2 linked regions of the Homo sapiens genome follow. The protein of the gene in region 2 interacts with the protein of the main gene of each other region in a pairwise test. Each region holds a gene or a part of one and is shown on either strand. Other genes may lie near its edges.

The links.
Region 1: the proteins of RBMS2 (region 2) and DIPK1B interact in a two-hybrid assay, tested with the Homo sapiens proteins (one large-scale study listed by BioGRID and IntAct).

What each region holds. Positions count from the first base shown.
Region 1 is NC_000009.12:136,711,234-136,715,579, reverse strand, and holds the start of DIPK1B (divergent protein kinase domain 1B), read right to left. Parts: upstream 3,009-4,346; 5' UTR 2,915-3,008; coding exon 2,852-2,914; intron 1-2,851.
Region 2 is NC_000012.12:56,570,076-56,573,878, reverse strand, and holds part of RBMS2 (RNA-binding motif, single-stranded-interacting protein 2), read right to left. Parts: intron 2,182-3,803; coding exon 2,024-2,181; intron 1,090-2,023; coding exon of another isoform or gene 987-1,089; exon of another isoform or gene 1-986.

The sequences.
Region 1 (4,346 bases), on a different chromosome or scaffold from region 2:
TGGCGCCATTGCACTCCAGCCTGGGCGACAGAGTGAGGCTCCGTCTCAAAAAAAAAAAAAAAGTAAGCAGGCAGCCCCTGGCCCCTGCCTAAAGCTCTGACCCAGATGTCTGGGAGCCGGCTTTTAGGGAGGGCTCCAGGTCACTCTGCCATCCTCAGTCCCTCTGCCTTGGTTTCCCTACCGGCCTGAGGAGGCTCAGGCACCGGCTCTAGGGTGCAGGCCTCCAAGCTGGGCTTCCAAGGGTGACAGCCAGGGACAGCTGCATGCCACCTTCCCTCTCCCCAGCCCCCTAGCAAATTTCAGGCCTCTCAGGCACTGGCCAGCAGAGGGGACTTGCCCTACACAGGGGTTCAGACATCCCTGACCTGCAGCTGAAGGGTGAAGGGCCCAGGCTTGGGGGCCAGCTTCCCCTCAGAGAGGCCCCACTGCTGGCTCCAAGCACTCCCTGTGGCCTCCTGTCCACCTGCGGCCAGGGAGAGGCTGCCCTGGGCACATCCTCCTCCCGGCAGCGCCTGGCCACACCCCCACCTGCCCAAGCCAGAGCCCCCATCAGAGGTCGTGGGCTGCAGCCCGGCTTAGGCCGTGAGCAGGGGACTCCTCCCTAAAATGGGGCCACCAGCTCCTCAACGAGGACAAGGCACAGCCCAGGCAGCTGAGGTCGTTTTTTCTGGTTCTTTCAGGATGGGTGGGCCCTGGTCTCCTGCTTCCCCGGCATCCACTCACGGATGGCCGCCCCAGGCAGGGCTACAGAGGGAGGACCCCCAGCAGCTGGGGAAGGGCCCAGACCTCCAGTAGCAGTGGGGTCCTGGGGGTCCTGGAGCAGAGGGCGTGGCTCCGGTGTGGGGAGCCCTCCAGGCCCAGGTTGGTCTCCGCCCCCTCAGACCACTTGTCCTGGGCACTGAATCTGTTTCCGGCAGACTTGCTCAAGATGAAAAACAGGAAAGCAGAGAAACAATGGGGGGTGGGTGTTGTTCTGGCAGGATAAGGTCGGATGGCTCCGTCTGGGGTGAACGTGCCCAAGGCAGGGCCATGCAGGGAGGCCCAGCATGGGCGGGGCCTCGGAGGACAGCCAGGAGGAGGGAGGCTGCAGCTGGCCTCGGGCCTAGGGCTGACCCCAGCTGGGGACAGTGACACCAAGCTAGGGACTTACCCAGTTCTGCTCCCCAGAGCCCCGACTGGGCTTGGGCCAGGGCCTATTTCCGCCTGGCCAGCTCTGGTTCATCCCCCAGCTCTTTCGTTGTTGTTGTTCTTTTGAGACAGGGTCTTGCTGTGTTGCCCAGGCTGGAGTGCAGTGGTCCAGTCACAGCTCACTGCAGCCTCGAACTCCCAGCTTCAAGTGACCCTCCCATTAAGGCCTGGCATTACAGGCAGGAGCCACCTTGCCCAGCTCTCCCCTAGGTCTTGATCTTCCCCAGCTGCCATCCCTGACCCTGCTGTGGATCCTGGGGTCCCAAGCAGCTGCTCTGCAAGGCCCCCACAGTGCTCCCTGGCCCACCCTGGCTCCCGGGCCTGGCACAGATGGACGGGCAAAGCTTGAGTGTGGAGGTGGCCCCACCATCCAGGACCTGGGCTGGGGCTTTGCAGGGGCAGGTGGGGACCAGCTCCCGGTGTAGCCACTTGGAGGATAGGGAAGGTCACCCAGGGGATGGGAACAGCACAGTGGTCCTCAGCCCAGCAGGCTCAGACCGTGGGCCAGGAGCCCCACAGCACTAACCCAGAAAAGCAGTTCACAAGGCCAGGAAACTGAGGCCCTCGCCACTAGAGGGGCAGGCTGGGCTCCCACCAGGGCTCTGGCCCCGAGCCAGCCACCCTGGGAGCAGCCAACACCCCTCTGCTGCCATTCCTGGGCGGAGCTCCAAGCATCAGCATCTCTTCTGCAGCTGCTGGTCGAGGCCTTTCCTCGGGGGAGGGGACCACTGTGCACCCCACCTCCCAGCGACTGGGGTGGTCCTCAGACCCCTTAGCTCTCACCCTGCCCCAAGGCTGAGCCGGGACCACCACAACCTGAAGCCCCAAGTGGGCACAGAGGGTCTCGCTGCAATCTGTGGGTTGCCAGGTTCCATACGCTCTTCCCAGAAGGGGAGCTGAGGCCAGCCAGGCCCTGAGCTCAGGCAGGACGCAGGCAGGGTTCCTCCTGCTGACCCAGGACCACCCTGCGGGGGCCGGGGAGATACAGGCAAATCTGACCAGGACTGGCGCCTCCGGCAGATGGCTGGGGTCCTGGAGGGTCTGGGAGGGCATCCCATCCGAGGCCGGGCCCCGGATGATTGGAGCCTGATGGGCCTGGCCTGCATCTCCCCAAAGCAGAAGGTGAAAGGGCTCCTGGCAGCTGGAACCCAAGGCGGCCCGGGCCTCCCCTGCGGACCCGGCCAGGCCCCTGGAGGGGACGGTGGTTCAAGGTCATCCCGGGGTCAGGGCAGGGTCCCCGCGCTACGGCTGGCTGATGGGATGAAGGGGCAGGGGGCGGGGAGGTCATGTCCTTGCCAGGGCGTTTCTGTGCGTCCCAAGTTTTCTACCGCAGAATAACACACCTCATTTTTTAAGTGGAGAAAAGAAGAAAGGACTTCGGTGTGGTTTCTGGGCCTGGGGGGCAGGGACCGCCTGCAGGTCGGGGCGAGGGCCTCCAGGCCGCAGCATCCCCGCGCCCGGACCCTCCTGTCGCCGCCACCGCCCCTCCCCCAGCGTCCCGTCCTTCCGGAGCCACTCGCCCCCTCCCCGCTGCCCACCCCGGGCTCATGAACCCTTCGTGTCCGAACCCGGGGCCCCGCTCCGTACTCGGCCCACTCCGGGGCTGGAGCTCGGCCTCCCCAGGCAGAGGCGGCCGGGGGCGGCGGGCGCGCACCGCGCTTACCTGCAGGCGCTTGGAGAAGGGGCAGAAGAGCACCAGGTGCGCCAGGCGCCGCAGCCGCCGCATGGTGGGCTCCGGCCGGGGCTGCGCGGGCCCCGCGGCTCGCTCGGCCTCAGCCCCGGCCCGGCCCGGCCCGCAGCGGCCGCCGCTCCCTCGCCATGCGGGCCGCGCGCCCCCGGGCCCGCGTTAAAGGCGAGGGCGCGCGCCTTTCTGTCGGCCGACGGCGGCGCGGCGGGGGCGCGCGGGGGAGGGTCGCGGCGGAGGCGCGCGGGGGCGGGGCTTGGCGCGCGGCCCGCCTTCGACCCCCGGCTCGGCTGAGGAGGGGGCGGGCACCGAGGCCCCGCCCACCCGCAGACCCCGCCCCTCATGCAACGGTGCTGCGGGAGGGGCTGGGGGCGCGCGGGATGGGCCGGGAGGCGGAGCCGGGGCCGGGGGCGCGCCTGTCGGGCTCCTGGGCGTCTCGGGGGCTCTTCCCACGCTGGAGAGAGGCCCCGTGCGCTACGCAGGCTGCGGGGTTCAGGGCTCCCCACGCGCGCCCCCGGTTCGAGGCCGCAGAGCCAGGGCTGGTCCTTCCCCTGGGTCCTCAGGATGGGGTCAGACGCGCGGAGCCCTGGGCTGGCCGAGCCTGCAGCCCGCCCCGGGGTCCGACCCTTCCCTCCTGGCTGAGACCCCGCGCCTTGGCCACTCGCCGGGAGGACACTTCCTTCGCCTCCGCGTGGGGTGCTCGGGGATGAGCCGTTGCCGCCTCCATAGGCAGGTTCCGTGTGAACAGAAGCTTTCATTGCACTTCGGTAAACACCTGGGGGGGCTGAGTTGGACGGTGAGGGATGTGGGGCGCAGCCAGCAGCTGCCAAGACTCGCTCCCTCCCCGCGGCCGCCGGCGCTTCCAGCTGCTCCGCATCCCGGGCGGCTCTTGCTATCGGCAGGTTTTTACATTTTAGCCATTTCCCTGGTGGTGGCGTCTCGCTGGGGCTGTGGTTCGCGTGTTTAACACACTTTCTGCGTGTTCAGTTACCACCTGTGTATCTTCTCCAAAGTCTATTCAAGTTTTTGACCATTAATAAAAATCACGTTGTTTCTTTATTATTAAGTTTTGAGACTTATTTACATTTTGGTTTTAATTTTTAATATCTAGAATGAGACTGGGTCTCAGTGTTTTGCCCAGGCTGGTCTCGAACTCCTGGGCTCAAGGGATCATCCTGCCTTGGCCTCCCAAAGTGCTGGGATTACAGGCATGAGTCACCTGGTGCCCAGCCAAGACTTTTTTTTTTTTTTTTTTTTGAGAGGGAGTCTTGCTATGTTGCCCAGGCCGGAGTGGTCTCAAACTCCTGGCCTCAAGTGATCCACCTGCCTCAGCCTCCTAAAGTGCTGGGATTACAGGCGTGAGTCACCATGCCTGGTCCGAGACTTCTTTATATCTTCTGGATATCTGCCCATTATTACACATGTGATTTGCAAAGATTTTTCTCCCAGTCTGTGGCTTTCTTTTCATTCTCTT
Region 2 (3,803 bases):
ACAGAGTGAGACTTCGTCTCAACAACAACAACAACAACAACAAAAATACAAAAATTAGCCAGGCGTGGTGGTACGCACCTGTGGTACGCGACAGAGCGAGACTCCGTCTCAAAAAAAAAAAAAAAAAGTGTGGACCATTCAGTTACTTAATAAATTGAACTGTTAGGTATTTCTTTTGGTCTAGGGTGAAAAACTATTAGATAACTAAGGGTGGCACAAACTGAGAAAGGTTAAGAACCTCTGCTCAACCTGCAAAATAAGTTCGATGGTCCCAAGCCTAGGAACTCTCCTTTAGATATACACGGGATTGCCAGCAGGTGGTGCTACTAAGCTTGAGTCAGCTGGGGAAGAGGAACTATTTCTTTTCTTCTTCTTCTTTTTTTTTTTTTTTTTTTTTTTTTTGAGATGGCGTCTCGCTTTGCTGCCCAGGCTGGAATGCAATGGCGCGATCTCGGCTTACTGCAACCTCCGCCTCCCGGGTTCAAGTGATTCTCCTGCCTCAGCCTCCCGAGTAGCTGGGACTACAGGAGCCCGCCACCATACCCAGCTAATTTTTGTATTTTTAGTAGAGACGGGGTTTCACCAGGTTGGCCAGGCTGGTCTCAAACTCCTGACCTCAGGTGATCCACCCGCCTCAGCCTCCCAAAGTGCTGGGATTACAGGCGTGAGCCACCACGCCCAGCCAAGAGAAACTATTTCTTGTTCCCAAGGTCTGAAACACTCAGAGTAAGGGGGTGTTCACGGACCAGACAAGATATAAAGCAAAAAGGGGTGCTTGGCTCACTTAGTCCAGTCATTTTGAAACTAAAAAAAAAAAAAAAAGTCAAAAGAATCTCCTTTCAAATAAAATCTTAAAATAAATAAAAGCAGAGCCATTTCTTAAGTGGGCTAAGGGAGGCTGATACCCTACGACAGTGAGGGCAGATACCAAAGCCCAAAGAAGGGCACCTGGGAAAACTGCAGGTATAGGGAATACTGTGGGAAAATTACTCATCTGAATCAATCTCCACTTCAGAGAGTGAACCAAGGCTCACAAGCTCTGATATCACAGGTGCAGAATTGTTCTGGAATACAGGTCTCCCAACAGATCTGAAAAGGAAGATCAAAACTTCTACCTCATCCTACTGCTCTCAAAGCCAGAAGGATCAGGGCTCTGCTCTAACACCCACTCCTGTAAGACCCTGGGCAAATCATTTCTACTGAAGAGTTCACTTTCCTCATCTGTAAGATAGAGAATATTTATCTCACAGGGATGTTGTAAAGATTAAATGAGACAAGATGAGAAATACTCAGTAAACTATAAGAATATACAGAATTTTTTACTCTGGTTGGGTCTGGATTAAAGGAACAAAGCCTAGAGTACTTCCCTAGGAAGTAGTAGGGAGCTTAGCCGAGTGTGGTGGCTCATGCCTGTAATCCCAACTGCTTAGGTGGCTGAGGCAGGAGGATCACTTGAGCCCAGATGTTCAAGAGCAGCCTGGGCAACACAGCAAGACCCCATCTTTATAAAAAAAATATTTAGGTGGGGCTAATGGGTTTTTGAGTATTGTAACCTATAATAAAATGAACCTTTTTTTTTTTTTTTTTTTTGAGACAGAGTCTCACTCTGTTCCCCAGGCTGCAGTGCAGTGGTGCGATCTCAGCTCACTGCAACCTCTGCCTCCCAGGTTCAAGCAATTCTCCTGCCTCAGCCTCCTGAGTAGCTGGGATTACAGGCATGCGCCACCACGTCTGGCTAATTTTTGTATTTTTAGTAGAGACGGGGTTTCACCATGTTTGCCAGGCTGGTCTCAAACTCCTGACCTCAGGTGATATGCCTGCCTTGGCCTCCTAAAGTGCTGGGATTACAGGTGTAAGCCACCGCACCTGGCCTAAAATGAACTTTTGACTTACCATCAAGTATTTTTGAATAATAGTAAAGTATTTTGACCTTGTGTGGGAAAGGCATAGATTTTGTTTTCTGGTGACCCCCAAGTGACATTTGTTATTAACCTCATCATTTCCCCACTCCTGCCATCCTCACCTTGCAAAGCCAACACCTCTGCTGGTCCCACTGGTATCTCGAAGGATACGGGTGGAGATAACCTGGCCAAAGGGCTTCAGCATCCCCTCCAGTTCCTGCTCATCCATTGACAGTGGGAGGTTTGAGATGTATAAATTTGTGGGGTCCTGTTCCTGTTGCTGTGGAAATAACAGTGAGAAAATGAGGCTCACATCTCTTATCCCTCTCCCACCCTCAGCCCTCCCCACAAATGACATTTCAGAAAAGAGACTATAGGAAGGGTCCCACATAAACAAAGATTATTCTATTTGTTAACACCCAGTCCCACTACCACGGGTTGTATATTGAGTTCCAGGAGGGAGAAGTGCAGATTTAATATTTCTAGTACTATACAAGCCCATCATACAAGTCATAAATGGTGTTTGGCTGTCTCTTTTAGAAACAGGCAGAGCAGCATTCCCGCTCTCCCCCAGCAGCCGGTCCCAGAGGCTGGATTCCCTCAGACTGCCTTGCTCCTTGGCTGGCTTGTTTTGAGCAGCCCCTCCCCACTTCTCTTCCAGCCACGCAGAATCCTCTAAGTAGGAATGCCTGTTCACTCCCTGATGGAGGAAGAGCAGGAGGAGGGGAGAAGGGAACAGGGAGAGAGCCAGATGCAGAGTTCACTGTGTCACCACGGAGCCCTGAAAGCTACAGTCTCCTAGGACCCTGAAGGCTCCTAAACCTTTGAGCTTTTGTCAGAGGGTTTTACTCCTGGAAGAAGAGGTAGGAGAGCCCTTCCAGGGGACAGAATGTGCAAAATGGCAATATCATCCAATAGTTGTATTTTTAAGAATTTAAGCAGTCACTCTGCCCTAAACAGTGGTCACCAGCAACCTTAATCCTCTTCTGCCTTTTCCTTTTGTTTTCCTTTTCTTTAACCATTACAGAAAAGGTGTCTAGCAGGCCTGCCTCACAAGCTCTATGTATAATACTCATAACAGCTTCAGAAAGGCAAAGGGACAGCCAGGCGTGGTGGCTCATGCCTGTAATCCCAGCACTTTGGAAGGCTGAGGTGGGCGGATCACAACGTCAGGAGATCGAGACCATCCTGGCTAACACGGTGAAACCCTGTCTCTACTAAAAATACAAAAAATTAGCTGGAGGTGATGGCGGGTGCCTGTAGTCCCAGCTACTTGGGAGGCTGAGGCAGGAGAATGGCGTGAAGCCGGGAGGTGCAGCTTGCAGTGAGCCGAGATTGCGCCACTGCACTCCAGCCGGGGCGACAGAGCGAGACGCTGTCTCAAAATAAATAAATAAATAAAATAAAATAGAAAGGCAAGGAGACAATCCCACCTAACAGAAGAAGTGAGAGAAAAGCTTCTAGATTTCTAGTAGTCTAGGTGAAGACAACAGTTTCAGACAGATCTGAGAAGAGACAGTTTCCTCCCTTGATGTGGCTTCCCTCCTGCCTCCCCAGCCCACTACCCAGCCCGTATGGGGAACAACATTAGGAGGTGGAGAGCATTGTTCTGAAATTCTGAGTTGCACAATTGACTTGTTCAGAGAATGTTGCAAAACCACCACAAGCTGTCTGGTAGGGAAGTGGGGCCAGGGTGAATAATATAGGGAACACGGGGAAGCAGCAGGAGTACCGGAAGAGGCCACCTTACCTTTCTTGCTGCCAATAACTTGGTGAAAGGAAGAGAGCTGATAGAGCTACCTGCCATAGACTTTGAATACATCTTCCTCCAGCAGCCAGGGGTGCTCATGGACTGTCTAGAAAGCACCACGGATAGCCCTTGCCCACTCAATTTCATGGTTC